Regions from separate parts of the Homo sapiens genome. Here region 1 is linked to region 2. The links come from fine-mapping of genetic effects on gene expression. A gene starts in region 2. The other region holds a variant in brackets. All regions are shown on one strand. Distances are from middle to middle.

The links. PIP is the estimated chance that this variant, and not a neighbour inherited with it, causes the effect.
Region 1: its variant is the best candidate, but not a certain one, in a credible set for the expression of YARS2 in blood mononuclear cells (TOPMed, PIP 0.50).

The regions. Positions count from the first base shown.
Region 1 is chr12:32,683,378-32,686,291 of GRCh38, reverse strand. The region is part of intron 1 of DNM1L (dynamin 1 like); the gene reads right to left. Among named protein-coding and RNA genes, the nearest start is that of DNM1L, 5.5 kb to the right of the region's middle. The variant C/A (reference allele first, on the strand shown) is at 1,585.
Region 2 is chr12:32,754,186-32,757,099 of GRCh38, reverse strand. YARS2 (tyrosyl-tRNA synthetase 2) reads left to right here and starts at 1,203. Exons shown (of 5, transcript NM_001040436.3): 1 at 1,203-2,004. The coding sequence starts at 1,226. RefSeq lists enhancers at 344-983, 1,188-1,417, 1,438-1,537, 984-1,623, 1,908-2,067 and 1 more.

The sequences.
Region 1 (2,914 bases), 71 kb after region 2:
ACGGATCACCTGAGGTCATGAGTTTGAGACTAGCCTGACCAACATGGAGAAACCCTGTCTCTACTAAAAATACAAAATTAGCCAGGCATGGCACATGCTTGTAATCCCAGCTACTTGAGAGGCTGAGGCAGGAGAATCACTTGAACCCGGGAGGTGGAGGTTGCTGTGAGCCGAGATCGCGCCATTGCACTCCAGCCTGGGCAACAAGAGCAAAACTCCATCTCAAAAAAAAAAAAAAAAAAAAAAGGCTAATTTTATGTTCTGCAAATTTCACCTCAATTTTGTTAAGTTAAAAAAAAGCAGCAGCTCATAATCTATACAAAAAAAGAGAAAAACATAAATTTATCTAAGAACACAAGAAAACAATGCATAAGCAGGAATTAAATTATAGTCAATAAATGCTAAAATGTAGACAGCAGTGCTCATGGAGAAAAAAAAGAGAGAGGGACATCAAACTATGAAAAAAGTTGTCCATAAGAGAAGGAAATGGCATAGGTGTCAAAAAGTGCTGTTTTTCAAATAAAGAATTCCAGAATGATTTAGCGCTTAAAAAAAAAAGATAACAACAAGTGTTGATAAGGATGTGCAGAAACCTGAACCCTGGAGGGGATGTGAAATGGTGCAGCCACGGCTGGGCGCAGCAGCTCACGCCTGTAATCCCAGCACTTTGGGAGGCCGAGGTGGGTGGATCATTTGAGGTCAGGAGTTCGAGACCAGCCTGACCAATATAAGGAAACCCTCGCCTCTACTAAAAATACAAAAAGTAGCCGGGCAGTAGTGGCGGGCACCTGTAATCCCAGCTACTCAGGATGCTGAAGCAGGAGAACGCCTTGAGCCTGGGAGGCAGAGGTTGCGGTAAGCCAAGATAGCGCCACAGCACTCCAGTCTGGGCGAGAAAGTGAGACCCTGTCTCAAAAAAAAAAAAAAAAAAAGGTGCAGCCACTATGGAAAACACTTTGGTAGTTTTTCAGAAAGTTAAACGTAAGAATTATCATATGAATCAGCAAGTCTACGCTTAGATATATACCCAAGAGAATCAAAAATACACATTCACTGACCGGGCGCGGTGGCTCACGCCTGTAATCCCAGCACTTTGGGAGGCCGAGGCGGGTGGATCACGAGGTGAGGAGATCGAGACCATCCTGGCTAACACGGTGAAACCCTGTCTCTACTAAAAACAAAAAATTAGCTGGGCGTGGTAGCGGGCACCTGCAGTCCCAGCTACTCGGGAGGCTGAGGCAGGAGAACGGCGTAAACCCGGGAGGCGGAGCTTGCGGTGAGCCAAGATCACGCCACTGCATTCCAGCCTGTGTGACAGAGCGAGACTCCATCTCAAAAAAAAAAAAAAAATACACATTCACACAAAAACTTGTAAACGAATGTTCGCAGAGCATTATTTATTCATAATAGCCAAAAAATAGAAACAACCCAAAAATTCATCAATTGATGAATAAACTGTGCTGTATCTATACAATGTAATATTTATTATTCTGCCATGCTACATAATGGATGAACCTAAAAAACATTATGTTGAGTGGCTCATGCCTATAATCCCAGCACTTTGGGAAGCTGAGGCAGGCAGAT[C/A]ACTTGAGGTCAGGAGTTCGAGACCAGCCTGGCCAACATGGCAAAACCTCGTCTCTACTAAAAATACAAAAAAATTAGCTGGGTGCGGTAGCACGCGCCTGTAATCCGGGCTGAGGCAGAAGAATCACCTGAACCCGGAAGGTGAAGGGTTGCAGTGAGCTGAGATTGTGCCATTGCACTCCAGCCTGAGCAACAGAGCAAAACTCTGTCTCAAAAAAGAAAAAAAAAAAGAATTATGTTGAGCAACAGATGCCTGGCACAAAAGATCAAATCACATATTATAGGATTCCACTAATGTGAAATATCCCAAATAGGCAAATCCATACAGACAAAAAGTAGATTAGTGGTTGCCAGTGATACCTGCTTTTTCCAGTATCATGCATTTTAAAATCCAATGATTCACTAATATATTTTTCAAATTAGGATCTAGGAACCATCTGTATCAGAGTCACCGATGGACCCTCACCCACGTGGGGCTTATAAAATCAAAACCTGTCAGAAGCTGGGGGAGGACAAAACGGGGGTGACTGCTTATGGGCAGGAGTTTTCTTTTTCAGGTAATGAAAATATTTTGGAATTACACTATGGTGGTACAACTTTGTGAACATACTAAACGCTGCTGAGTTGTGTATACTTTATAAGGGTGAATTTTGTGTTACATGAATATTTCAGTATTTTTAATGTTAAATTTTTAAAAGTTGATTTGCAAATTAGAAATTAAAATCCAAATTACTGGCCGGGCATGGTGGCTCATACCTGTTATCCCAGCAGGAGGCTGAGGCAGGCAGATCATTTGAGGTCAGGAGTTTGAGACCAGTCTGGCCAACGTTGTAAAATGCTGTCTCTACTAAAAATACAAAAATTAGGCCGAGCACAGTGGCTCATGTCTGTAATTCCAGCACTTTGGGAGGCCAAGGCAAGTGGATCATGAGGTCAGGAGTTCGAGACCAGCCTGACCAACACAGTGAAACCCCATCTCTACTAAAAATACAAAAATTAGCTGGGCGTGGTGGCATGCACCTGTAATCCCAGCTACTCAGGAGGCTGAGGCAGGAGAATCACTTGAACTCGGGAAGCGGAGGTTGCAGTGAGTTGAGATCGCACCACTGCACTCCAGCCTGGACAACAGAGCAAGACTCCATCTCTAAAAAAATAAATAATAAAATAAAATAAAATCCAAATTATTTTTAGGCTAGGTGCAGTGGCTCACACCTATACTCCTAGCACTTTGGGAGGCCAAGGCAAGAGGATCATTTGAGCCCAGGAGTTTGAGACCAGCCTTGGCAACATAGTAAGGCAGCGATTTTAAATTTAAAAAAAAAAATTAGCC
Region 2 (2,914 bases):
GGAACATGGCCCAGATCCCAGTCACAGGACCAAGGCACTCAATCCCCCAGCTGCTGGGAGTGTTGGTTGCTTATTGCTCACAGCTGAGTCCCTTCCTGCACATCTCACTCTCCAAAAGCCTTAACCCAGCGTTTTGCTTCCTCCCCAGAAACATCCCACATTTAATGAGCAGTCAGTAAGAGGGTCTAAAGGTCTGCCCCCTGGCCTCAATTCAGGATGACTCTGAAAGGAAATCCCGGCTCCAGAGCCCTTACTGGATTGCCTGAGGCCTCTATTACAAATTGTTCACAGTTCAACTTCTTTCTCCCTCCGCCCAACCCGGCCTCCCTCACTCCATTATAGGTGTTGTTCTTAAGAGCACACTCCAATTACCCTCCTGCAAACCAGTCTCCCCCCCAACTCAGAGTCCAGGGAATTCTACCTAAGACGATTTTGAAAGCGGTCCTAGAAATCAGGCTCTAACATGGGATTTTGAAGCTAGATCACCTGCCAGCCAGCTGCCAATAAGAACCTCATCCCTGGTCAGTATTCAGAGCACCTGTCACGCTGCACGATGTGATTACTAACTTGAATCCACTCATGCTAAGCTGTGTCCCAACCTAGTTAACTGTATTTAAAATAAATAAACCACAGGACTTGATGCATGTACTTTATTGCACTGAGTTTTTCTTGCTATACCTTGGACAAGACTGCCACCTCCTGGAAGAGCCGATGAATACTGGGGACGAGGTGCAATTAGGGAATCGGTACTATGAAATTGCTTGCGTCTCAGCAGCAACTCCCTATCTCTCCGCGAACTTAAACCAATTCCTAACCTTTCTCAACCTCTGTGAACAGCTTTTTGCATGGAACCAAGACTTCAAAGAACTTGCGCATCACAATCTTTTTACGTGAAAATGTAAATACAAGTTAGCATTTGTGAAGCGTTATGTGCCAAATGCTTTAATTTTTAAGGCTCACAACAGCCTTATGAGGTAGGAACTATCATAAGCAGATCCACACTGCTGATGGAAAAATTAAGTTTAAGGGAACGTAAGGCGACGGCTCTGAGGCGGAATCGCCACTTGGAGTCGGGACTCAACTGCTGAGAGCGCAAGCTCCGTAACTACGTAACCGTCTCGGGCATGCGCAGAAAAACACTGAAGCACCTTCCCTAGGAGCTGTAAGTAGGTGGGTGTGGTGGGAGCCTCTGCAATCCCAGCATTCCCTTCGTGCCGCTACCAAGATGGCGGCGCCCATCTTGCGGTCCTTTTCCTGGGGCCGGTGGTCTGGTACCCTAAATCTCTCAGTATTGTTGCCCTTGGGGCTGCGTAAGGCCCACTCGGGCGCTCAGGGGTTACTGGCAGCGCAGAAGGCTCGAGGTCTGTTCAAGGACTTCTTCCCGGAGACGGGGACGAAAATAGAGCTCCCAGAGCTCTTCGACCGTGGCACGGCGAGTTTTCCCCAAACCATTTACTGTGGCTTCGACCCCACGGCAGACTCGCTTCATGTGGGTCATCTACTTGCGCTGCTGGGCCTGTTTCATTTGCAGCGAGCGGGCCACAACGTGATCGCGCTGGTGGGAGGCGCCACGGCGCGCCTGGGAGACCCGAGCGGCCGTACCAAGGAACGCGAGGCGCTGGAGACAGAGCGCGTGCGAGCCAACGCGCGAGCTCTGCGCCTAGGGCTTGAGGCCCTGGCGGCTAATCACCAGCAGCTTTTCACTGATGGGCGCTCCTGGGGCAGCTTCACTGTGCTGGACAACTCGGCCTGGTACCAGAAGCAGCACCTGGTGGACTTCCTGGCGGCAGTGGGGGGTCACTTCCGCATGGGGACGCTGCTGAGCCGGCAGAGCGTGCAGCTGCGGCTCAAGAGCCCCGAGGGCATGAGCTTGGCCGAGTTCTTTTACCAGGTGCTCCAGGCCTATGACTTCTATTACCTCTTCCAGCGTTATGGATGCAGGGTCCAGCTGGGCGGATCTGATCAACTAGGCAACATCATGTCCGGATATGAGTTCATCAACAAGTAAGTGCCTTTAAACCTTGGGGAAATCCTGGGACCAAATAATTTACACACTAGTAGCCTGTGATTCACTCTTAGGATTGTAGTTGCTGCCCTTCGTTCCAGCTCTTGTTGGTTTTATCCCCATTAAGGCTCTATAATGGCGTTAATAACACTGGCTAATAAGAATTAAAGGGCTGAATTAAGGGTATTAAGAGTAAACGGTGTATTCTAAAAATTAGCTGGGCGTGGTGATGCACGCCTGTAATCCCAGCTATTCGGGAGGCTGAGGCAGGAGAATCTCTTGAACCCGGGAGGCGAAGGTTTCAGTGAGCCGAGATCGCGCCACTGCACTCCAGCCTGGGGCAACAGAGGGAGACTCCGTCTCAAAAAAAAAAAAAAAAAAAAGGGAAACAGACCACTAGTGAAGATTTGGTCGGTCTGTTTTGCTTCGCCTAAGTCGTCCTCTCTAATTAGAGAAACTGCTTTTGTGTGTTTATACCAGAACGTGACTGGGCCTCCTTGAGTAGCTAGCCTCTGCTTTAGCTCTGCACCCTCCATGAAACTAGTGTTAGTCCTTGGTTGGTATCTCAAAAAGTTTTTTCAACTCCAAATAATTGACAAGTAATGCGGGTCTAATAGCATTTTCTTGAGAGAGGTGAAGGATAGGGCTAGCTCATGTGCAACAGAGCAAAGCACATGTTTAAAAGGCGTTTAGAAGATTTCCTTTAGTGTCTCTTCCTGACACCCCTTCACCCAGTTTTCTCCTTCCCACTCAGCCTTTCAAAATCTCTAGTCCATTGTTATGTAGCACTTCCCCTTGGCCTGCCTAGAACCTGCCTGGAACCACTCATGAGGTTCAGAATGAATAGAGTAAGTACTGTAACAATACATAAGAGGAACAAGAATTCAGATTTAGGAGGTCAAGGAAGTT